Homo sapiens: one gene and its partners. The gene in region 3 interacts genetically with the main gene of each other region. Each region holds a gene or a part of one and is shown on either strand. Other genes may lie near its edges. The genes, in order: PSMD1, BNIP1, VPS4A, SEC22B, SCYL1, COPE and RTF1.

Evidence for each region.
Region 1: changes in VPS4A (region 3) and PSMD1 together harm fitness more than expected from each alone (negative genetic interaction), as found in Homo sapiens cells (one large-scale study listed by BioGRID).
Region 2: changes in VPS4A (region 3) and BNIP1 together harm fitness more than expected from each alone (negative genetic interaction), as found in Homo sapiens cells (one large-scale study listed by BioGRID).
Region 4: changes in VPS4A (region 3) and SEC22B together harm fitness more than expected from each alone (negative genetic interaction), as found in Homo sapiens cells (one large-scale study listed by BioGRID).
Region 5: changes in VPS4A (region 3) and SCYL1 together harm fitness more than expected from each alone (negative genetic interaction), as found in Homo sapiens cells (one large-scale study listed by BioGRID).
Region 6: changes in VPS4A (region 3) and COPE together harm fitness more than expected from each alone (negative genetic interaction), as found in Homo sapiens cells (one large-scale study listed by BioGRID).
Region 7: changes in VPS4A (region 3) and RTF1 together harm fitness more than expected from each alone (negative genetic interaction), as found in Homo sapiens cells (one large-scale study listed by BioGRID).

What each region holds. Positions count from the first base shown.
Region 1 is NC_000002.12:231,070,367-231,073,866, reverse strand, and holds part of PSMD1 (26S proteasome non-ATPase regulatory subunit 1), read right to left. Parts: intron 1,679-3,500; coding exon 1,452-1,678; intron 1-1,451. UniProt on the Homo sapiens protein: Component of the 26S proteasome, a multiprotein complex involved in the ATP-dependent degradation of ubiquitinated proteins.
Region 2 is NC_000005.10:173,158,031-173,161,530, forward strand, and holds part of BNIP1 (vesicle transport protein SEC20), read left to right. Parts: intron 1-713; coding exon 714-815; intron 816-1,902; coding exon 1,903-2,021; intron 2,022-3,500. UniProt on the Homo sapiens protein: As part of a SNARE complex may be involved in endoplasmic reticulum membranes fusion and be required for the maintenance of endoplasmic reticulum organization. Also plays a role in apoptosis.
Region 3 is NC_000016.10:69,321,350-69,324,394, reverse strand, and holds part of VPS4A (vacuolar protein sorting-associated protein 4A), read right to left. Parts: intron 1,836-3,045; coding exon 1,695-1,835; intron 188-1,694; coding exon 86-187; 3' UTR 1-85. UniProt on the Homo sapiens protein: Involved in late steps of the endosomal multivesicular bodies (MVB) pathway. Recognizes membrane-associated ESCRT-III assemblies and catalyzes their disassembly, possibly in combination with membrane fission.
Region 4 is NC_000001.11:120,152,521-120,156,020, forward strand, and holds part of SEC22B (vesicle-trafficking protein SEC22b), read right to left. Parts: 3' UTR 1-3,500. UniProt on the Homo sapiens protein: SNARE involved in targeting and fusion of ER-derived transport vesicles with the Golgi complex as well as Golgi-derived retrograde transport vesicles with the ER.
Region 5 is NC_000011.10:65,531,583-65,535,082, forward strand, and holds part of SCYL1 (N-terminal kinase-like protein), read left to right. Parts: coding exon 1-101; intron 102-1,109; coding exon 1,110-1,223; intron 1,224-3,500. UniProt on the Homo sapiens protein: Regulates COPI-mediated retrograde protein traffic at the interface between the Golgi apparatus and the endoplasmic reticulum. Involved in the maintenance of the Golgi apparatus morphology.
Region 6 is NC_000019.10:18,902,388-18,905,887, forward strand, and holds part of COPE (coatomer subunit epsilon), read right to left. Parts: coding exon of another isoform or gene 3,480-3,500; intron 3,243-3,479; coding exon 3,189-3,242; intron 2,466-3,188; coding exon 2,384-2,465; intron 1,037-2,383; coding exon 881-1,036; intron 1-880. UniProt on the Homo sapiens protein: The coatomer is a cytosolic protein complex that binds to dilysine motifs and reversibly associates with Golgi non-clathrin-coated vesicles, which further mediate biosynthetic protein transport from the ER, via the Golgi up to the trans Golgi network.
Region 7 is NC_000015.10:41,469,095-41,472,594, reverse strand, and holds part of RTF1 (RNA polymerase-associated protein RTF1 homolog), read right to left. Parts: intron 2,339-3,500; coding exon 2,203-2,338; intron 1,424-2,202; coding exon 1,246-1,423; intron 1-1,245. UniProt on the Homo sapiens protein: Component of the PAF1 complex (PAF1C) which has multiple functions during transcription by RNA polymerase II and is implicated in regulation of development and maintenance of embryonic stem cell pluripotency.

The DNA of each region.
Region 1 (3,500 bases), on a different chromosome or scaffold from region 3:
TGATTTTATCAAGGTCATAGGATTCAATGTTAGTATATAAAAATCAATTATATTTCTATATACTACCAACAAAAAAAATAGAAATTTAAAAATACCACTTCACAACAGCATCAAAAAACAAATTATACTTAGGGATATAAGAACATTAATTTAAGAAAAGATGTGTAAAACCTCTGCACTGAATCTACAAAACACTACTGAGAAAAAAATAAAAAACCTAAGTAAATGAAAAAGATCACCATATTCCTGGATTACAAGATTCAATATTATCGGGATTTCAATGTGCCCCAAATTGAAGATATTCAATACAATCCCAATCAGAACACCCACAGACTTATATAATGCAAAAAATCTACAATAGCCCAAAGAATCTTGAAAAAGAAAAAAGAATCAAAATTGTAGGTCTTACAATACCTGACTGCAAGACTTAGCATAGTTTTAGTAATAAGGAAAGAGGTAGTGATATAAAGAAAAATATAGGCATACCTTTGTTTTACTGCCCTTCAAGGAAGTCTATTGGAGCCACTTCTCCAATAGTATGTGATCACTTTGTCCTTGTGTTACATTTTAGTTATCCTTGCAATATTTAAAACTTTTTAATTATCGTTATATCTGTTATGGTAATCTGTCATCAGTGATCTTTGATGTTACCATTGTAGTTGTTTTGGGACACCACGAACCACACCCATATAAAACAGCAAACTCAATCAATAAATGTGTGTGTTCTGACTGCTCCACACACCGGTCATTCCCCCATCTCTCTCCTTCTCCTTGGGACTCCCTATTCCCTGAGACACAACAATATTGAAATTAGGCCAATTAATAACCCTACAATGGCCTCTGAGTGCTTAAGTGAAAGAGAGAGTCCCACATTTCTCAGACACAGATATCCAGTGAAAGAGCGGGCTAGGGGGCTGCCGGCATATACAGGCACAACTAAGACACACAAATGTTTTTAGTAAGTGATCTAAACGTGTAAAATACAGAAAAATAAAATTTTAATACCATATCAATTTGTACAGAATGCAAATTTCTAATACTATAGAAATTTGTGTATTTAGTTCTAATAAAAGCATAAAAAGCTGAGAATGTTCTTTACTTTCTAAATATCTAACCCAGATATATCTAACCCAAATATCTAAAAGGTAGCCCCAACCTATCCCCACCTGTTTTTTTAAATTTACTTGATTAAATAGTACACATGTTGTCTGGTAGGCCCTCCCTACGAGATAATCACTTCTATTTCTTTCCAGAAGGGTCAATTTCTTCGGTTTTCCTTACTACACCCAGCACAGTACAAAACAGAGCAACAGCCTAATAAGACTTTACAATCTATGAAAGCTAGTGGCAAAATTTATTCTTAGAATATGCTTCCTATAAATATTCTACCTGTCCCCAAAATGAAATAAAGATTATTCAATTAGTTTTGATGCAGAAAAAGGTACTTATACCTGTCTTTCTCTGATCCCGGAACAGTACCCGTATTAGTGGATCCAGGCACAGAAGCAATAGGGGTGCCAACAGTTCGAAGATTCTGGATTACAGATGACAAAAACTGCTGGCTAGCACTTTCATACAAATCAAAACAAATCTGATATGCCATCAGGAGGTTGTCTTCCTTTACCAGTTTCTCTAAGATATCACTCACAGCCTGAGGATCATCTAAGAAAATTAAGCACTGAAATGGAGATAAAGAACAATTATTCAATAATTAAAAACTTCATCTACAAGGTACTTAAGGAGACAAAATCAACATTATAGAAAACCTTAAAATATAAGCACAGGCAAACTAGGGCAGACTATCCAGTCTAGCACTCTATTTCTAAACCCAGCACTAGATGAAATTTTTCTAAACATGGCATCTGTCTTCCATAAAAAAATTCATACAAATTATATTTATAACTCTTAATGCTGTGCCTGGTAATCAGCAGTATTCAACATTGGTTGTTGAATGAATCTTGGCTTCTTTAAATCTTATCCATAAGTTATACCTAAGTGCTCCTTAATTTGTTATTTTCTCCCTTACCATATATTATGGAAGTTACTCATTCATTTAACATACATTGTGTTGTGTTGGGCCAGGACAAGAGACATTAAAATTACCATTTTGAAGCATTTCTCTTACTACTCTTATGATCTGCCATTGTTTTAACAAAATTATCCAACAAAGTTAGAATTTTTCTTTTAAAAACTCAATTTAAATTTTCTTGTTCCCTTAGGCAGCAAGTAACTCAACTTCAAAATAAACACATTAATCAAAGTTATTATAAATTAAGAACACGAAATAACACAAACAAAATAAGTGGTCAACAATAGGGGAATGATTAAGTAGGGCAAAGTACATACACTGAATGATTACAACAATCAAGTAAGAGGACTCTATGAAGAATTAGAACATGGAAAAATGTTAAAGACTGTATACAATTAACACTGTTTATCCACAGAGAAAAGAACTTGGTAGCTGGAGCCAAGTAATAGGAAGACTTCATTGTATACCCCATCATTCTTTTTGAATTTTAAATCACATGAACATATTATCTGCTCAAAAATATATTATTTTAAAAATGAGCAATAAAGTTTTTAAAAATAATAAAAAGATAAGGAATAAAACAGCTGAAAGAAATAAAATTGCCTCTAAGGAATAAAACTGAAATACAGACAGGAAGAGGGCAGGGAACTACTATTTTTCATGTCAGTTTTAAAAAAAACTATGAAAAATATTTACAAACAACAAAACTCCGAAAACCTATGTAGAGAAAACTGAAAGGAAATACACTATTAAATACTAAATTGACTTTGGGTGATGTAAAAAATCAAGTTAGAATAGTAAGTTGACTTTGGGTGATTTAAACATGGATATTTTTTCTTCTAGTATTTTGTTTCAAACTTGCTTTAAAAGGGATTGTAAAAAACAGTGTTTTAATCTAAATTTTCAAAGTCTAGAGGATTAAAATACACAGGAGCACATTTTAATGAAGAAACAATAAAATGTGCAATAAAATGCTATGCCCTGAGCAGAATACAAAAAATGTATACAACATAGCAATTGTTAAAAAGTAAACCCATGCACACCTCCAGTCAATAAAATACAATACAGTCATTAAAAGAATGCAGTAGATCCACATGTGTGAATAAGTAGGGAAAAACATCTATGTCTTACCTTTGGGAAAAAGCCCAAATGATGGGAAAGAGAAGCCTTACTTTTCATTTTATATATTTTCTGTACCATCTGAATTTTTTTTTATGTGCAAGCAAATTTATATATAGAAAGAGATAAAGAAAAGATACCCAAATGTTTTGGTGTGTATGGGTAATGAAACCATATATAATTTATACACTTTGAATTCTCTTTAGAATGATATAGTATAGCATAGGCACTGTTTTAATCTTCTAGCTTTTTAAAAAACCTTCGTTATTTCTAAAAATTTCCTTAAATTATTGGATTTTCAAAATGAAAAAAGAATACAAAGAAAGAATGTGTTACAACAAAATAGCTTTTT
Region 2 (3,500 bases), on a different chromosome or scaffold from region 3:
ATCTTCGCTCCTCCGCCTCCTGGGTAGCTGGAACCACAGGCATGCGCCACCACCATGCCTGGCTAATTTTTTGTATTTTTAGTAGAGACGGGGTTTCTCCATGTTGCCCAGGCTGGTCTTGAACTCCTGGGCTCAAGTGATCCCCCCACCTCGGCCTCCTAAAGTGCTATGATTACAGGTGTGAACCACTGTGCCTGGCCACGATTTTTTATTTCCTACAAAGTATATTAACTCAGCAGCTGAAGGGCCAGAAATGGTTGTTCAAGATACTGGAGATGAGTAAGTCATGGTTCTCCGGGGATGGTACCAATTAATACACAGGCCATAGCAGTACAGCCTTAGAGGCAACTGGACTGAAGAGGGGCCTTGTGTGACCAGCTGGGAAGTTTGGATGCCTCCCTGAAGTCCAGCCATTGTGGAGCTGTGCACAGAGGAGTGCCATGTTCACAGCCCCTTGGGCTGACGGGGGCAGAGTGACAGCAACAGAGCCTCCCCGTGGCGACCTCCAGGGTCCGGTCAAGGGGTATCAGGACCTGAGCAAGAACAGTTGCTGGGGAACCAGGAGGCGGAAGTGGCAGGAGGTGGGATGGGCTCTGAAGGCCGTGCCTGGTGGCCTTCTCCCGTGTGCCTTTGTTGGGGGGAAGTGCTGTGAATTGAACTGACTTATGGCTTGGTGGAGTGGACACACTCACACGTGAACCTTCCAATTCCAGCAATCAGGCCTCATGGAGGAAAGCTAATCTCACCTGCAAAATTGCAATCGACAATCTAGAGAAAGCAGAACTTCTTCAGGGAGGAGATCTCTTAAGGCAAAGGTACCTATTCTTTTATTTTTCTGGGCTCCGATAATAATAGATAACAATTGGCAAGGTGTAGGAAACCCCCTCTTGTTTTCAGCTTGGTGCTTAATTTAATTACATAAGTAATTTTTTTAAGTTTGAAAAAAATGCATACTTATTTGTAGTAAATTGGTAAAATAAAGTATGAATTACAAAATTAAAATATTGAATTTTTTTTTTTTTCTGAGATGAAGTCTCACTCTTGTAGCCCAGGCTGGAGTGCAGTGGTGCCCTCTTGGCTCACCGCAACCTCCGCCTCCTGGGTTCAAGTGATTCTCCTGCCTCAGCCTCCAAAGTATCTGGGATTACAGTTGCGTGCCACTGCACCCAGCTAATTTTTTGTATTTTTAGTAGAGACGGGGTTTAACCACGTTGGCCAGGCTGGTCTTGAACTCCTGACTTCTGGTGATCCACCCACCCCAGCCTCCCAAAGTGCTAGGATTATAGGCGTGAGCCACCATGCCCGGCCGAAAATATCAAATCTTATTACTCATGAACATTTTGGTATATTCTCTCCCTCATTTTTATTTCTACATTTCTTACAAAGTCAAAATTGTACCATACATAAAATTTCATATTCTGCTGTTTCAGCACAAAAGTTGTTCATTAAAAAAAAAAAAAAAGCTTTTTAAGCCTAATTCTAACAGTACATAGTATGTAGATTGTATGTTAATACAATTCCCTGTGTGTGTTTGCATTTCTAGTGTTTAAGTAGTGTAAGTAATACACCAGGGCATGTCTTAGAACATAAGGCTTTATCCACATTTTGGATGTTTCCTTTGGAGGGATTTCCAGGGATGAGATGATTGAGTCAAAGGAATGAACATTACCAAGGCTCTTCAATTGGCAAATTGCTTTACAGAAGGCAGCACTGGTTTATGTTCCTACTAGCAGTCCACAGGGGCGTGGGTCTCAGCACACCCTTTCCAGCATTGAATGTGATCATTTAAAATATGTATACTAATTGGATAGGTAAAACATGAGATCTCATTTGGATGTGGGGCCTTCTTGCAGGGAGGCTTTTGTTGACATTCCTCCCCTTTCTCTTCCTCTGAACTTTTAGGAAAACCACCAAAGAGAGCCTGGCCCAGACATCCAGTACCATCACTGAGAGCCTCATGGGGATCAGCAGGATGATGGCCCAGCAGGTCCAGCAGAGCGAGGAGGCCATGCAGTCTCTAGGTAAAGCTGGGCCTGGAGTAGGAAGCTTCTCCCAGAGACGCTGCTCTAGGGCCCTTGCCCTGGCACCTCCACTCTGGGCTCCTCCACCACAGCCCACACGATGTTCACTGACTTGGGTGGCTTCTCCCTCATGAGATGACTTGACACCATGGTCTTATCCAGTGTGGGATGTGCTGCTCCTATTTCTCTTTTTTTTTTTTGAGATGGAGTTTCGCTCTTGTTGCCCAGGTTGGAGTGCAATGGTGCGATCTCAGCTCACCGCAACCTCTGCCTCCTGGTTTCAAGCGATTCTCCTGCCTTAGCCTCCCAAGTAGCTGGGATTACCGGCCTGCACCACCACACCCGGCTAATTTTGTATTTTTAGTAGAGACGGGGTTTCTCCATGTTGGTCAGGCTGGTCTTGAACTCCCAACCTCAGGTGATCCGCCTGCCTCAGCCTCCCAAAGTGCTGGGATTATAGGCGTGAGATGCCACGCCCGGCCCGTATTTCTGTTTACTAGAAGACCCCACACCCCCATCGATGTTTCCTCAGGGGGAGCATTCCCATGTGTTCATGTGAAAGGCAGAGGTCCCAGCCCCTCTCCTAGAGAGGGTGTCGGCAGGGCTGGGTGAGGGGCCTGGAGTCTGATTTTCAGTGAGGGCTCTGGGGACCCATATGGCCAGGCAAGTTTGGGAATGGTTGCTCCAAGAGATGTTTGGCGAATCAGCTGCTGGTAGGACTGCTAGGACCTCAGTTTACAATTATACTCCCCAACGTTATTTTTCCTATGAGTTCCTTTTAAAAGATGTGAATCAGAGGCTACAGGAGAGACTGCTTGAGACCATCTGGTTTCCTCCAATAGTTTTCCCAGAGTGTCTCCTCTGTGATGGAGAAGAGTATCAGCCCTCTCCAGGGTCCTTCAGTATAAGACAACAGAAAAAGGGCGTTTACTCCTTGAAACGCTTTTGGAAAATTGCACACGTGGACAAAAGGAGAAAGCATGGTATCCTGAATCCCCTGAGCCCTGAGTCCATTACCCCAGCCAGTCTCGTTTCAGTTCTACCCTCAGCCCATCCCCCATCTGGATTATTTTGAAGCAAATCCCAGACATCATCCATAAATATCTCAGTACATCTCTCTAAAAGATAAGGGACTCTTTGGGGAAAAAGCAGAAGCAACCCCATAACTACAATACCATGATCACCCCTAGAAATTATAATTTTGGACCACTGTTTTTTCAGTGCACCAAATAGGCAGAAGCAAAAGGAAAGCAAGCAGGTGACCCCAAGGTCACTCCTTGAGTTTGCAGCTTACCTGAACATCTGGGCTCGGAACCAGCCAGGGGCTTCCTCTCAGCGTGTGCTGTGGGAGAGGCCTTGGAGAGAGAGGGAGCAAGGCGACAACTTGGCCTCTGAGCCCAGGGCTTTTATGCTCTGGTGTGGCGACAGCATACCCCCCGCTAACAGTGGGAAGGAAACACAAATGCTGGTGGCTTCTGG
Region 3 (3,045 bases):
GCCCTGTCTGGCTGTTGACATGGGGAGTGCCTGGATTTGCCCCAATCAACCTCCCACCTTCACCATTGCCCAAGTGAAGCAGCTTTTAACTCTCTTGCCCAAAGTCCTCTGAGAATTTCTTCACTTTCAGGAGGTCGTCTGCATTCACCGTGGGCCGGGTGGTGGCCAGAGACCGCAGCATGTCCGACTGTGAAGGCAACAGTATGTGCCTGAGCAGGAGCCAGGCTCCAGGTCCCCAACCTCCCCTCAGCACACAACAGGCGCAGCTGAGGGTGGGAAGAGGTTTGCCTTCAAGGCCACCCCAGAGGCCTGCTTGAATCTGCCTATGGCAGGGACCCTCTTCCCTCTCGAGGCAGCTCAGATGGGCCTCCTCCTGGTCTGAGAATCTAAGCTCCATCATCTCATAACTCCCCTTACGAACTTGCTTTCTTTTTTTTTTTTTTTTTTTTTGGAGACGGAGTCTGTCACCCAGGCTGGAGTGCAGTGGCATGATCTCGGCTCACCGCAACCTCCACCTCCTCGGTTCAAGTGACTCTCCTGCCTCAGCCTCCCAAATAGCTGGGACTACAGGCACGTGCCACCACACATGGCTGATTTTTGTATTTTTAGCAGAGACGGGGTTTCACTATGTTGGCCAGGCTGCTCTTGAACTCCTGACCTCAGGCGATCTGCCCGCCTCGGCCTCCCGAAGTGCTGGGATTACAGGCGGGAGCCACGGCGCCCGGCCAGGAGCCTTCTTAGCTGCACACCCCCAACACCAGCCACAAGGGCAGACCCTTGCCAGGATGGCACGGGCCAGGCTATGCAGGTGAGGCGCTGCCTTTGCAACTGCGTCACAGTCTTGACACATTCACTGCCTCACTGCACCGCAAAGCCAAACCCATGGATTGACGTCATATTATCTGGACCTGACTTTACTTGCTAAAGAATATAAAATGCAGGCTAGGTGTGGTGGCTCAGCTCATGCTTGTAATCCCAGCACTTTGGGAGGCCACGCTGAGAGGATCACTTGAGCCCAGCAGTTTCAGACTGGCCTGGGCAACACTGTGAGGCCGTTTCTAAAAAAAAAAGGAAAAATTAGCTGGGCATGATGGTGTGTGCCTGTTGCTACTCAGGAGGCTGAGGTCAGAAGATTGTGTGAGCTCGTGAGGTCAAGCCTGCAGTGAGCTATCACTGCACCACTGCATCTAGCCTTTCTCTGTATGTACAAAATGCTAATGCTGCCACCTGCATTCTGGGCCCCCAGTGAGTGTAATGCCAGCTTCCCTGAGCTACAAAGGCCATTCTCAACAGCCCAGGACATAGAAGAAGACTATTTTTTATTTTTGAGACGGAGTCTCACTCTGTCACCCAGGCTGGAGTGCAGTGGCCCAATCTCTGCTCACTGCAACCTCTGCCTCCCGGCTTCAAGCGATCCTTCTGCCTCAGCCTCCTGAGTAGCTGGGACTACAAGTGCACACCACCACACCCGGCTAATTTTTGTATTTTTAGTAGAGACAGGGTTTCTCCATATTGGCTAGGCTGGTCTCGAACTCCTAACCTTGTGATCTGCCCACCCTGGCCTCCCAAAGTGCTGGGATTACAGGCGTGAGCTACCATGCCTGGCCTGGAGAAGACCGTTTTTATTCTGGACCCAAACCCTCAATTTTCTGGGCTCTGTGCAGCCCTCTTCCCTCCCCTGTCAAGTCACTTACCATGCAAACCACAGGCTCTAAGAGTTTGTCCCCAGGGACATCCATCCAAGTCATCTCCATGGCTCCTGGGTCCCCTGGTGAGCATGGAGTCAGGAGGTCATCAATCATCATGCTGGGGTTGGTGCGAGAGGGGCCACAGACCTGAAACCAAATGGATCTGACTGGGGCAGCTGCCCCTCAGTGTCAGAGGGGCTCGACCCCTCCGGTCTCTAAGGAAGTCCCAAAGAGAATGCTCTGTGGGTCCCTAGCATCTGAGGAGGACGGGCTCCTTCAGAACTCGGGCTGGGTGGTCCGAGCGACTCATGATTTGCATGGGACTCTGGCAATCTGTAGCCCCAATGCCTTGATGTCTTCCTCATTAACACTGTCACGTCTCACCAGGAATACAGTGACATTAAAAGTGTGATATGGTTTAGCTGTGCCCCCACCCACATTTCAACTTGAACTGTATCTATCTCCCAGAATTCCCACATGTTGTGGGAGGGACCCAGGGGGAGGTAACTGAATCATGGGGGCTGGTCTTTCCCGTGCTATTCTCGTGATGGTGAAGTCTCACGAGATCTGATGGGTTTATCAGGGGTTTCCACTTTTGTTTCTTCATTTTCTCTTGCCACCAGCATGTAAGAAGTGCCTTTGGTCTCCTACCATGATTCTGAGGCCTCCCTAGCCATGTGGAACTGTAAGGCCAATTAAACCTCTTTTTCTTCCCAGTCTCGGGTATGTCTTTATCAGCAGCATGAAAATAGATTAACACAAAGTGGTTTTCCAACTGAAGTCCGCTGCCTTGGCAAAACATTCCCCCAATGTCCACAAGGCTCATTCCCTCACACCTTCACCTCCTGTCTCAGGCATCACCCCAGTGCCATCTGCCCTTCCCTCCATGCCCGAGACACCTCTCTCCTAACCCTGCTCCATCTCCATCCTCTGAGACACTCACTGACTGTGTTGACTGTCTCCCCACCAACAACGGAAGGTCTAGGATTTTTGTCTGTTGGTCACTCATATCTTCCCAGCACTTAGGACAGGGCCGGGCACACAGGAGGACCCACAGCAAATACTCAGCAGAGATCTGCTGAATGAATAGACAGGTCTTCCTGGTCATTTTATATCCAACACTTTCCAAACACTGATTTGGTGTCCACCCCGCACAAGAGCACACAGTGCTGACGGAGGAGGCCGCAGCAGGGTTAAGACAGTAAAGTGGCCCTGTCCTCTGCTTTCACACACCCTGAGATGGCCACACTCCAGAAGAGCTGCAGGGAGGGGACAGTGGGTGCAGCCCCCATGGCACTGGCCCTCGGCTCTCCAGGAGGCCTCAGAGACTGTGTCACCTGAGCAGCCGGGGAGCAGG
Region 4 (3,500 bases), on a different chromosome or scaffold from region 3:
GGCTAAAATTTTAGTGAATCAGATGTGGAAAACAGTTGGATTAACATTGAGATCAAATGAGAAAGGAGCAAATAAGGAAAGAGGTATTACAAACCAAGAGTAAAAAAGGGAAAACAAAATAACAAAAGCAAAAACTATTTAAAAAGAATAAAGGAAGACGTGATAATGAAGTAAATTTAAAAAGTACGGAATAATAAAAAGAAATTGCAAAAAATAACTTTTGAAAATAAACATACTAATAACTTGACAATAAAGTGAAATGTGTAAGACAAACGTATCTGTGTCATTATTTAGGAGTAGTGAAAAGTACTCTTAAATAATAATTTGGTATCTAGCAGGCCTGGATTTGAATCTACTTTAACTTGCTAGCTATGTGACCTTGGGCAAGCAAAGAAACTCCTCATAACCATTGTAATAATACCAGCAAAATGCCTTACACTTACGGCTCAAAAAATGAAGGAAATGAGAGAAAAAAGTATAGATTACTATATGGAAGTCAAATTTCTAGTGACTTTTCTAATCCAAACATGAATTGTTACAGTACTTGAAATAAACTTTATGAGAACTGAGTGACTACATTGCTTCAGATAGTTTTATACTGCTAGGTCAACGCTGCCTGACAGTAATAAGAATAGGATGTGAGATTCAATATGCTCATTCTATCTCAAACTCTGTCACACATACAATGACTGCTATTTACCTTCCTCCTGAGCCATCTGGGAAAAAACCAACCAACCAACCAACCAAACAAAAGAAAAACCCACCAGGTAGGAGTCAGTTAGTTCTGCTAACTAACTAACCAAAAACCTTAATTGTATGGCCATCAGCACCCTAGCCCTTTGTCATGAAAGCTACCAATAAGGTGGAAATTTAAAATATGAGATATTTTATTATACATGTTTTATTAAACCCTATATGTGCAGAAATGATTGTCCATTTTCCTTCTTAACTTGCTTTTGTAAGACTTATTAAGTAGAAAATATAAATCTCAAGCTCCTTAAATGTGATTTTGAGGAACTGAGACCAAAACAATTTTTTGCTGTGGAACCAGATCCTTGAATGCACTACAGGAAAATATTATTTGATATGAAATTTTTTTGGTACACACAATTTTTCAAAAATATATCTCTCTCCACAAAGTTAATTCAAATTGTAGAATTCTTCCAAGTCACAGATGGAGTTTTCAAGGCTCTGGGTACTTACCTTTGAGTTCCACATCCTTTATCTCTGGAGCTCTTAACTGAGGGAACATGGACCATTAGGTCATGAACAGACTTTGTAGTCTTTGAACAGCCTGAAACAGTATGTGATACTTGATGTGCATGTACACAGGAACATTTTTCTAGAGTAATGGCACATACCTTTCATCAGATTTTCAAAGGTTTCTCAAAATGCTCAAGAACCATTGTTAGATATTTAAATAACCAGAGTGTACAGTGTCCAAATATTTCCAAATTTTGACACTTGTAAGATGTCTTAATTAAAACAAGCCATGAAGTTCAGCGTCACAATAACCAGAAAAGCACTTGTGAGAGTAGTTCTATGTCTTTACTTCCTAGTGGTTTACACACTCTTTAACCCATATGGCAATCTGGCTTCTGTCTCCAGTGCTCTGGAATTACTTCTGCCTGTATGATTAAGTTCCTCATTGTTAAATTCGAAAATACATTCTTTGGTATTTATTTGACCTCTTGGTGGTAATATAGCGTAAGAGCACAGACTCTGGAGCCAAACTGCCTAGGTTCAAATCTTAGCTCTATTACTTTCTAACTCTGTGACTTTGGGCAAATGACTTAACTCTCTCATGCCTCAAAGCAGAATCCTTTGTAAGGTTTATTTATATAGTGGTGTAAAGAGTACTTACTTCAAAAGCTTTGGTCAGTGTGAGAAATAAGCTCCTAACAAAGAAAGTGTTATGTAATAGTTATTATCTGGTACCTCTGATCACAACATTTTTGAAAATCACTTGAAATCTGCCTAAGTTTCATTCTGCCTTTGATGGCTCCTTATTTTCATCTCCCTACTTCAGGCTTCCTCCCTAATATATCTTTTATGCCAATATTATGATCACTTGAAACTATAAATCTGATGCCATCCTTGGCCACTACCATTAAGATGGTCTAAACTCCTCAGCATGATAGACAAGTCCCTTTATGATAGTGTACCCATCTAGTTCTCATTCCTCAAGTCTCCTCTGTTGTCTATGCTTACCCTATGGGCTAAGCTGAATCAAGCTGTTACATTTCCAAAATATGCCTCACTGTCTTTATTCATGCCTTTGCACATGCCATTGACTCTTCCTAGAATGCCCCATTCTCCTTCTCTAGAAAGTCTTCTCTTAACATACTTCTTCCCAAAATAAATTAGGTGTCCTTTCTTAATATGCCTCCAATAACCCCATACAGTATTTATCCCATTCTATTTTAGATGCCAGTTTGGTTGATGATACATTTCATCTAGTCAGATCTTCCCACTGCCTCTTATAAAGAAAACCAGGAGCCATATTATGATATTCTTGTTCTCTAATTTTTCTGCTGCCCTGATCTTAAACCACTTTCTTCTCCCTTTGTTGACAATTACCCCACCCCTTATTTCTTAATTAGCCCAACAAGATTAGATAGAAATGTATCTACAAAGGATATATGTATATAAATTAACTAGATAACAAAACTTCACACTGAAGTGAACATTCTACAAGTATTTATTTCATTGCTGACCATTAGGTTGCAGCATGCAACTCTCAACAATGAGCTGCCCCTCTCCACTCCTATAGAAGCTCCAAATACTATGGTACCACTATGTAGGTTTTCAGCCTTTCAAAGGCTTTTATTATTAACATCATCATTACTTCAGCAGGAGCCTTTTAGGGACTTAAAAGCACTGATTATCTATAAAAAGTAACTTCATATTTCATGCACAAAATTCCCAATTGGCAGATTTAGGTCCATAAAAGAAAGGAAAAAAATTATTCTAGTTATATAAATTATCAGGAATAAAATAGCATTTCTCCTTGCCTTGTTATAAGGAAATAATATATTTTTCCTTACCAGGAATCAGGATAGTATCTTTGATGATCCCTCAGGGTTATAAAATTGCTTACTGGTTAAAGTTTTTTGCCAAAGATATTAAGAAATAAAAAGTTCGCTCATTTTCCTGTGCAATTTAAAGAAATATTTGCAGTATGTACAGGAATTTTAAGTTATATTGCAGACCCTGGCAATAATATTTAAAAGGCCTATTTTCCCCATTAAAAAATTCTACCTCAGAAGGTAAAAGGAAATCTCCATCATCCCTGAGCAGAAAAGGAAAAAATCATGGGTACTTTAATTAGTTAATAGAAACCACTGTAAATGAGTTATCTATCTCCAGAACATTCTCAGAGAATTTACACGAACTAAAACAGGAATGAAGTGCTCTCAGAGACTTTTTCTCAGGTAAATGTATTTAGTAGTTTGAGTAGTTGATCTGCAAAAACTTTAACTTTAATTAACTACATAGAT
Region 5 (3,500 bases), on a different chromosome or scaffold from region 3:
AGTTCCTGAGCGCTGAGGAGTATCAGCAGAAGATCATCCCTGTGGTGGTCAAGATGTTCTCATCCACTGACCGGGCCATGCGCATCCGCCTCCTGCAGCAGGTGAGGCCTCTGTACCAGACTCTGTGGTGGTCCACCCAGACCCCAACCTGGTGGCTGGGGAGGCACCTGCCCTGGCTGCACAGGGACCCCAGAAACCCCACCCCTGAACATACACACAACTGAGGGACCCAATGAGGCCAGGCTCTCAGAAAGTTGGCCACATACAGGGCTCCTTGGCAGTTTTGGGAATGGCCAGCTTGCCCAGGCTGCAGCGCTCTAATGCCCCCTCCTCTCCTGGCTCAGTCACTCTGGCCCTCTAGAGTGGGGATACAGTCTTTCTCCTGCAACCCCAGGGCAGCTGGGAGCATCAGACAAGATGGATGGGATCTAGGAAGTACCAGTGGCTCCCAGTGCCATTCCCTCTGTGACCACCAAACACACCAGTCCTCCTCGTGGCACTGTGGGCAGGTGGGGAGGAGCAGGGAAGGGGTGATACCCTCATTTATAGAAGAGGCTCAGGCTGGGCGCAGTGGCTCATGCCTGTAATCCCAGCACTTTGGGAGGGCCGAGGCAGGCAGATCACCTGAGGTCAGGAGTTTAAGACCAGCCTGGCCAACTTGGCGAAACCCCGTCTCTACTAAAAATACAAAAATTAGCCAGGTGCGGTGGTGGGTGCCTGTAATCCCAGCTGCTCAGGAGGCTGAGGCAGGAGAATTGCTTGAACCTGGGAGGCAGAGGTTTCAGTGAGCTGAGATTGCGCCACTGCACTCCAGCCTCGGTGACAGAGCAAGACTCTGTCTCAGAAAAAAAAAAAAAAAAAAAATAGAAGAGGCTCTGAGAGGGTGGCCAGATGAGCCGGACTATGAGCCAGGCCTTCCTAGCGCCCTCCTGGCCTTTCCTCACTCCTCCACCTGGGCCTGAGGCCAAACACCTGGGTGGTGGCTCAGGAGGTTGACCTGGCTGGCCAGTGCCTGCTGGGTGGAAAAGCTAAGCCAGGAGCGGTTCCATGGCTATGGGGATAGAGTGGGAAGGGCTGACCATGTTGACGCATCCCAACCTGGGCCACAGATGGAGCAGTTCATCCAGTACCTTGACGAGCCAACAGTCAACACCCAGATCTTCCCCCACGTCGTACATGGCTTCCTGGACACCAACCCTGCCATCCGGGAGCAGACGGTCAAGGTGGGTGTGGCCAGGCCCAGAGTGGCTACCCCTGGTTTTCCAAGGCTTGGAGGGGCTCACCCTAGACACAGAGGCCTTGGCTTTGGCCCATGGGTCCAAGCAGACACTGTCCTTGCTGTGTGGGTTCAGGCCGTGGGTGCAGCTCGGCAGCTGGCGGGGGAGCACGTCCTCCATTCAGCAGACAACGAGCATCTGCCTGTTCCTGGCCCAAGCCCCATGCTGGGAGGCAGCATGCATGAGGTGCCCAGCCCCCTGCACTCATGGAGCTTCCTTTCCAGGGCACAGAGGGTGGGCTTGCCAGACAATACAACAGAATTAGAAAATATGTATTGTTGGCTGGTCACGGTGGCTCACGCCCATAATCCCTGCACTTTGGGAGGCTGAGGCAAGCGGATCACCTGAGGTCAGGAGTTCGAGACCAGCCTGACCAACATGGCGAAGCCCTGTCTCTACTAAAAAGTACAAAACCATCTGGGGATGGTGGCGCATGCCTGTAATCCCAGCTACTCGGGAGGCTGAGGCAGGAGACTCAATTGAACCTGGGAGGCAGAGGTTGCAGTGAGCCGAGATCATGCCGTTGCACTCCAGCATGGGCAACAAGAGGGAAACTCTGTTTCAAAAAAAGAAAGAAAATATGCATTGTTGGAAAGTGTGGGGAGAAGAGTTTGTGGTTTTAAAAACAGTGGTCAGGGGCTGGGCGCAGTGGCTTACGCCTGTGATCCCAGCACTTTGGTAGGCCGAGGTGGGAGGATCGCTTGAGCCCAGGAGTTGGAGACCAGCCTGGTCATCATGGCCAAACCCCATCTCTACAAAAAAATACAAAAGTTAGGCGCGTATGGTGATGCACGCCTATAGTCCCAGCTACTCGGGAGGCTGAGGCAGGTAGGTAGCTTGAGCCCAGGAGGTTGAGGCTGCATTGAGCTGTGATCGTGACACTGCATTCCAGCCTGGGCAACAGAGTGAGACCTCATCTCAAAATTTAAGAAATTATTTTAGGCCGGGCCTGGTGGCCCATGCCTGTAATCCCAGCACTTTGGGAGGCCGAGGCGGGTGGATCACCTGAGGCGATGGGAGTTTGAGACCAGCCTGGCCAACATGGTAAAACATGGTAAAACCCCATCTCTACTAAAAATACAAAAAATGGCTGGGCCCGGTTGCTCACACCTGTAATCCCAGACTTTGGGAGGCTGAGGTGGGCGGATCACAAGGGCAGGAGATCAAGACCATCCTGGCTAACATGGTGAAACCCCGTCTCTACTAAAAGTACAAAAACAATCTAGCCGGGCATGGTGGTGGGCGCCTGTGGTCCCAGCTACTTGGGAGGCTGAGGCAGGAGAATGGTGTGAACCTCGGAGATGGAGCTTGCAGTGAGCCGATATCGCGCCACTGCACTCCAGCCTGGGCAACAGAGCAAGACTCCGTCTCAAAAAAATAAAATAAAATAAAAATTAAAAAAATTAGCCAGGCATGGTGGTGGGCGCCTGTAATCCTAGCCACTCAGGAGGCTGAGGCAGGAGAATTGCTTGAACCCAGGAGGCAGAGGTTGCAGTGAGTAGAGATCACACCACTGCACTCCAGCCTGGGTGACAGAGTGAGACTCTATCTCAGAAACAAAAAAGATACGGAGACGAGAGTGGCTCTGAGGCTTGTGGCCTGAGCAACTGGAAGGTTAGGAGTTGCTATTTACTGAGATGACACAAGCATGTTGGGCCCCATCTTGGCTGTTTCTGTTAGGCAGCTGGATGGAGATGTCGAGTTGGCCACTGGTTATGCATGTGTGAAATTTAGGGAAGTCTGGGCTAGGGGTATGTGCCTGGGGGTTGTCAGCTCACAAGATGGCATTGAAAGCCATGAAATGGCTGAGATCACCTAGGGCAAGAGTGTTAGATAGAAAAGAGCCCTCTAGATTGGCTCCGGGTGTGTGAACGTTAGAGTCTCAGCAAAAGGAGCAGCCAGCCAGGTCAGAGGAGAACCAGGAGGGGGTGGTGTCCTGGAAGACCAGAGACCAAAGTTTCAGGGAGGGAAAACTCAGGGGTGTCAGAACTGCTGAGGGTCAAGTTTGGTGAGGATGGAGAACTGGCTGTTGAAATTAGTACCGGGGAGGGCATCAGTGACCTCACCCTGAGCCAGTTTGGCAGAGTGTGGGGCTGTTTGTGTGAGTCTAGGTGGAGTGCCATCAGGAGAGCAGAGCAGAGGAAATGGGAAACAGGAGTGCAGACAGACTTTGGAGGTTTTGCTGTAAAGGGGGACAGAAATGGGGTCCCTTTCTTCAACATG
Region 6 (3,500 bases), on a different chromosome or scaffold from region 3:
GGCGTGGTGGCTCACGCCTATAATCCCAGCACTTTGGGAGGCTGAGGCGGGTGGATCACCTGAGGTCAGGAGTTTGAGACCAGCCTGACCAACATGGCAAAACCCCGTCTCTACTAAAAATACAAAAATTAGCCAGGCGTGGTGGCAGCCGCCTGTAATCCCAGCTACTTGGGAGGCTGAGGCAAAAGAATCACTTGAACCCAGGAGGCGGAGGTTGCATTGAGCTGAGATCACACCACTGCACTGCAGCCTGGGTGACAGAGTGAGACTCCATCTCAAAAAAAAAAAAAAAGAAGAAAGGAAAGGAAGGAAAGGAAGGAAAGGAAGGAAAGGAAAGGAAGGAAAGGAAGGAAAGGAAGGAAAGGAAGGAAGGAAGGAAGGGAAAGAAGGAAGGAAGGAAGGAAGGAAGGAAGGAAGGAAGGAAGGAAGGAAGGAAGGAAGAAAAGACTGCAGACATCAGGCAGGAGATGACTGCAGCCACCCTGGGCAGGCAGCGCTCTCTCAACGAAGAGCTCCTGTCCACAGCACACTCTCCCCTACATAAGTACGGGGAGTGTCTCTCCAATACTGAGTATGTACTCAGGTGAGGGGTCCCACTTGCAGGTCCCGGGCCAGGCAGCTGAGGTGACAACAAGGACGGCTCAGACCACTGAGGCCCAGGCTGCCCAGATGCCCCATTTCTGTGAGGCCGGAATCTGGATTTCTTTGCAGGTGAGATCCCTGCTTTGTGGATCTCGCTGCTGACTGGGCCTTAGAAGCCCTGTGGGGCCACACGCACACCCAGGGGGTCTCTGCTACACTTGTTTCTGTCCGCCCTGACCCCACCCTCTGGCCGCCTGGCCTTCCCTCCGTCCCCACTCTGGGACAGGCTTGTGCCTACCTTGTCTAGCGCCTCCTGCAGCAGGCCCTCAGCGGCCTCCCAGCGGCCCTGGGCCATGTGGCAGGCCGCCTGCCCATTGAGCAGCAGCAGGGTGGGCGAGCACTTGTCAGCCATCTCCTGGAAGATGTAGTAGGCATCCTGCAGCTTCTCACCACCCTGCAGGGAGGGTCCCGCATCATTGCCTGTGCCCCTGCTGCCCGGCCCTTCCCCCGCCAGCCCCCTCCCCTAGCGGGGGGGACTCCAGCACTGCACAGAGACGAATCTGGTGTGCCCGGTTCAAGGCACAGCCACTCCGCCATGGGGACTACCCGTAACTTGTACTCTGCTGATGGGGCCTAAAGACTCGTGGCCGCCTCCTGCCCCACCTCCCACCCAGCTCCCGGAGTGCTGAGTACACAGAGGTGGAATCTGGGGCTTCCAAGGCCTCAGTGCACAGGTGGCTGGCTCAGGGTCTGAGTGGGGACCACTGGGTCACTGAGCACGTCAGAGGAGGAGGAGTCAGCTCTGTGACCAGCAGCCCTGACCTGTCCACTTGCTCAGAACAGCAGAACACTTGCAGGGGGAGCCTGAGGCCAAGGCAGGCAGTGAAAACAGCCCAAACTACCCGATAGGTCTGCCGGGGCCTGTCCTACCATACTAGACGGTCACTGGAAGTCTGTCTGGGTGAGGCTTCAGCCCCGTGGCGGGCAGGGACGGGGAGCACATTTTTTTTTCTTTCTCAGAGTTTCACTCTTGTTGCTCAGGCAGGAGTGCACTGGCGCGATCTTGGCTCACCGCAACCTCCACCTCCCGGGTTCAAGCGATTCTCCTGCCTCAGCCTCCTGAGTAGCTGGGTTTACAGGTGCATGGCACCAAGCCCAGCTAATTTTGTATTTTTGGTAAAGATGGGGTTTCTCCATGTTGGTCAGGCTGGTCTAGAACTCCCAACCTCACATGATCCACCCGCCTCGGCCTCCCGAAGTGCTGGGATTACAGGCGTGAGCCACTGCGACCAGCCAGGAAGCACATTTTAATAGGCCCACACAAAAGAGTGGCTCAGAAGGGGGCCAAGTCCCAGAAACCAGGAGAGGGGCTGTTGCCGGGCGGAGGTGCCCAGGCCTGGGAGCTGAGGACATCTCCACCGCTGCTATGGGAACACTGAACTCCGTCCCTGGCTGGCGACCAGGACCCTGGAGAGCAAAGCTGAGTCGCAGAAAACCCCAGGAAGCCCTGAGGGGAGGAGGGCCTGCCAGGCCAACCCAGACCCTCGAGTACCCCTGTGCCTCAGGCTCAGGAACCCGTCCCCGCCCCCACCATCTCTTCGCTCTGGCTCTGGCCAAGTCGCTTGGCTGTGAGAAGCCCGGAATGGAGTCAAGGCTGAGTTATGCCAGGCTGGCAGGGGCCACGGCCTGATCCTGGAGCCCCACTGGAGTGGCCAGCAGCCTACGCACAGGTGGGGGTGCCCACAGACCCTGCTCAGCCAGGTGCCCGCAATGCCCACCCACCTCATGGCCTAGGGCTCACCGTGGCCAGGCTGACCCAGGCAGTGGCGAGCTGGGTGAGGGTGGCATCCTCGTCCAGGTCCTGCATTCTCTTCAGCTCCTTCCTGGGGCGGGGACAGATGACAGAGGGGCTGAGTGGCCGAGGGCCCTGGCCTGGCCATCCCTGCCTTGTCCCCACTTGGGGCCCACCGGAGCCTGGGGATGGCCCCTGCTTTGTGCTCCACTGCATGCTCATACCCCACGACTAAGTGCCCGAGCCACCCTGCCCGTCTGACCACGTGCAGGCCCTGGGAAGGTGGGACTGGGGCCAGCTATGGCCCCCCAGGGTGGCCACCACAAGGTAGAGCTCAGGAGAGACTCACTCCATGGAGGATGGAACGCAGGGAAGGGCAACGGAACTACAGTGTGAACAACTCTGAGGCAAGGGCTTTGGAAACGGCAGCAGGGGAGTCCTGGACCCCCAGCCATGGCCTCCGACCTGGTGATGCCACGTGCAGGCCCCGCCAGCCCCACGGCACAGTTACAAGCTGGTCAAGTAACATGTTGCTCCAGGCACAACCTCCACTCTCCCTCCATGAAGCCCACCCTCACCCTGTGGGAGAGGCCTGCCACCCACTGCATAGAGAGAAACTGAGGCACAGAGAGCCATGGCCCTCCTCCCTGGCAACATACTGCAGGGAAGGGCTGAACGACAGCAAGCCACCCCCATGGAAAGGAAAGACAACAAGAGTAATGACAGCACCACAGACGCTCTGGGCTGTGACGCTCTGGGCTGTGACGCTCTGGGCTGTGGCTCAGTGCGGGTGGAGAGGGGCAGGAGGGCTCACCGGGCGAGGTCCAGGCGGTCCAGCTTCAGCAGGATCTGCACTGTCATGGCTGTGCTGCAGGACAGGGCGAGGGGGCGGTCAGCGGGTCGCCACAGACACATTGCATGGCCGCTCCACACCCAGGGCTCACTGTGTGTGTCTGGGATGTTCCTAAGTCCTGTGCTTAGGACCACCAGCCCCGCCCAGCAGAGGAGGACACCCTCACTCCCACATTTCACCGCTCAGCTTCCTCAGGCCCAGGAGCTCTGGGGGAGGTACCCAGGATGGGGTTTCAGGCCCCGGCCCACTCACCGCCCATCTGGAGAAGCAGCC
Region 7 (3,500 bases), on a different chromosome or scaffold from region 3:
GTGAGCCAAGAGCGTGCCACTGCACTCCAGCCTGGGCAACGGGGTAAGACTCTGTCTCCAAAAATAAAAAACAAAAAATTAAAAATAAGGCCGGGCTCAGTGGCTCATGTCAATAATCCCAGCACTTTGGGAGGCCGAGACAGGTGGATCACCTGAGGTCAGGAGTTCAAGACCAGCCTGGCCAACATGGTGAAACCCCATCTCTACTAAAAATACAAACAGTAGCCAGGCACGGTGGCGGGTGCCTGTAACACTAGCTACTCGGGAGGCTGAGGCAGGGGAATTACTTGAACCCAGGAGGCGGAGGTTGCAGTGAGCCAAGATCGTGCCATTGCACTCCAGCCTGGGCGACAAAAGCGAAACTCTGTCTGAAAAAAAAAAACAACAAATAAATAAAAATAAAAATAGGCCAGGTGCGGTGGCTCACGCCAGCACTTTGGGAGGCTGAGGCAGGTGGATCACAAGGTCAAGAGTTCAAGACCAGCCTCGCCAACATGGTGAAACCCCGTCTCTACTAAAAATACAAAAATTAGCCAGGTGTGGTGGCATGCGCCTGTAGTCCCAGCTACTTGGGAGGCTGAGGCGGGAGAATCACTTGAACCCGGGAGGCGGAGGTTGCAGTGAGCCAAGACCACGCCATTGCACTCCAGCCTGGGTGACAGAATGAGACTCCGTCTCAAAAAATAAAAATAAAAAAATAATAATAATGGTAAAATAAAATATAAATAAATAAATAAATAAATCCCAAAGTGTTGGGATTACAGGAGTAAGCCACTGTGCCCAGTCCACCTAGACCACAGAAGCAGTGCTGGAACCTACATAATAACCTGTATTAGTCTGGAGGGTTTTTTTTAACCTCAATACAATTCCCTGGTGTAGAAGTCACTTGGTATGCAACATGAAACTTTTCATTCATTGGTTTTTCAAATGAACAAATCTTTTAGATTATGTAACTCCCAATGAACACTTCATAGATGCCTCCCTTCTCCCTTTTATACTGAAGGGAGAATAGAGAAAATTATTCTACATCCAAATCTTCCAGGCCCTTGGGCTCCAAGTCCTCCTCTTGGCAACAAGTCATGAAGGATTCCTGGGCACCTCACTGCTCTATGGGGATCCCACTTGGAGTCTACTTTCCATCAAATGCTGAGAGAAGAGTGATCGATTTTTTCAGTAGCTCCTGCCCTCAGTTGAGACTAATTATACTGAAAGCATGGACAATTGTCCAAGGGAAGAAATACCAACCCGGTAAACTGGTTTGCTGTTGTGGTTTCCGATGCCAATCCGCACAAAACATCCTGTGACAGTTTTAGCAAAGAAGGGCATGTGACACCAGCGTTCTAGCTTATGCCGTGATAATCGAACCCGATTCAATTCTTCAGGTAAGGAAACTGGTTGGGATTTGGGAGGGATCTCTTCTTTCCTAAGAGGAACAAAGGGGCACTGGAAAAAATGTTCATCATAAAAACAGAACAAGACAGAAAAATAATATCAACTCCTCAAAACTTAACCAAAGTACATGTGACTGGCCTAGGAGGAGAAGTAAATGAAGCACCAGCAAAGACTTGTAATAGGATCCTGTTCCTGACCAGTAGTATGAGCTGTTTCAAATGAGGCTGCCATCTTAGATAACCCATCAGAGTAAGAAAATGAATGAGCCTGTAATCCCAGCACTTTGGGAGGCCGAGGCGGGCGGATCACGAGGTCAGGAGATCGAGACCATCCCGGCTAAAACAGTGAAACCCTGTCTCTATTAAAAATACAAAAAATTAGCCGGGCGTAGTGGCGGGCGCCTATAGTCCCAGCTACTTGGGAGGCTGAGGCAAGAGAATGGCGTGAACCCGGGAGGCGGAGCTTGCAGTGAGCCGAGATCCTGCCACTGCACTCCAGCCTGGGCGACAGAGCGAGACTCCGTCTCAAAAAAAAAAAAAAAAAAAAAAAAAAGAAAATGAATGAAAGCTCCAGGCCAATCTGAGAATGACACGAAGTCAGTTCCTACCTTCCAGGCCCAGGTGAAATGTCTAAGCGTACAGGCTAGCAGCCAAATGAATGGGCTGACGTGCTGGGGAACTCAGTTCAGCAAACCAAAGGTAACCATGTCAGAGTTAGTGGCCCAACCAGGGAGATTTTGGAAACGATACCAAGCTCTTCCTCAAAAACCCACCTATCCTGCCTACTAGACCAAAATGTACAAGAGCTTACTCCTCTTCTTCATCAGACGATGATGTTCGTGATGAGCGGTCTGACTTTTCACTGGATTTGTCATCCTCTTCCTCCTCTTCATCATCAGAGTAGACCTCACTGGTTTTTAATGGCTGTTTTTTGGCAAGGAGCTCAGCTAGAAAGAAAGAAGAGATGTTTACCTAGGTTTTCTCAACAAGAAAATGAATTCATCCTTGAAAAAGAACTGGAAATGGAAGAGGACTCAAATACACAGCTCCGTCCTCTCTAGACTGGATTGTGCTAACTTGGGGTATATACAGAAATGAGTTAAAACACAGAGTTAAAATTATTCAGGTGCCAAATGTCAGGCCCCAGCAGATGAAAAAAGGGCTGGAAGATTGATACTAGGTGGGCAGAAAGGGTCACCAACACTACTGACAGTTCTCTTTTATGGCACTCAAGACACTTGACTATGGGGAGGAAAGAGGGGGAAAGACTCATGATGACTTCAGAAGCTTCTGAGGAAAATTTAAAATAGGAGAGTGGCTAAATCACCACTGGTACATCTACCAATGAACTACTATGCAGCTATAAAAAAGGAACGTGGGGACGGGTGCGGTGGCTTACGCCTGTAATCTCAGCACTTTGGGAGGCAGAGGCAGGTGGATCACTTGAGGTCAGGAGTTCGAGACCAGCTTGGTCAACATGGTGAAACTCTGTCTCTACTAAAATACAAAAATTAGCCAGGCATTGTGGCCGGCACCTGTTATCCCAGCTACTTGGGAGGCTGAGGCAGGAGAATCGCTTGAACCCGGGAGGCGGAGGTTGCAGTGAGCCAAGACTGTATACCACTGCACTCCAGCCTGGGCAACAGAGCGAGACTCCATCTCAAAAAAAAAAAAAGGAACGTGGCCAGGCATGGTGACTCATGCCTGTAATCCCAGCACTTTGGGAGGTCGAGGTGGGTAGATCACTTGAGCTCAGGGGTTTGGGACCAGCCTGGGCAACATGGTGAATCTGCATCTCTACCAAAAATACAAAAAACAAACCAGGAGTGGTGGCTAAAAAAAAAAGAGAGAGAAAACTGTGTATAATATGCTACCATTAATCTAAGATGGCAGGTTAATCTGTGTACTTACGATTTAAAAAGAAAAAAGAATAATATAAAAAAATTTTAGGCTGGGAGTGTTGGCTCATGCACTTTGGGAGGCCAAGGCAAGGCGGATCACTTAAGGTCAGGAGTTCAAGACCACCCTGGCCAACATGGCTAAACCCCATCTCTACTAAAAATACAAAACAAAATTAGGTGGTGGTGCACGCATGTAGTCTCAGCTACT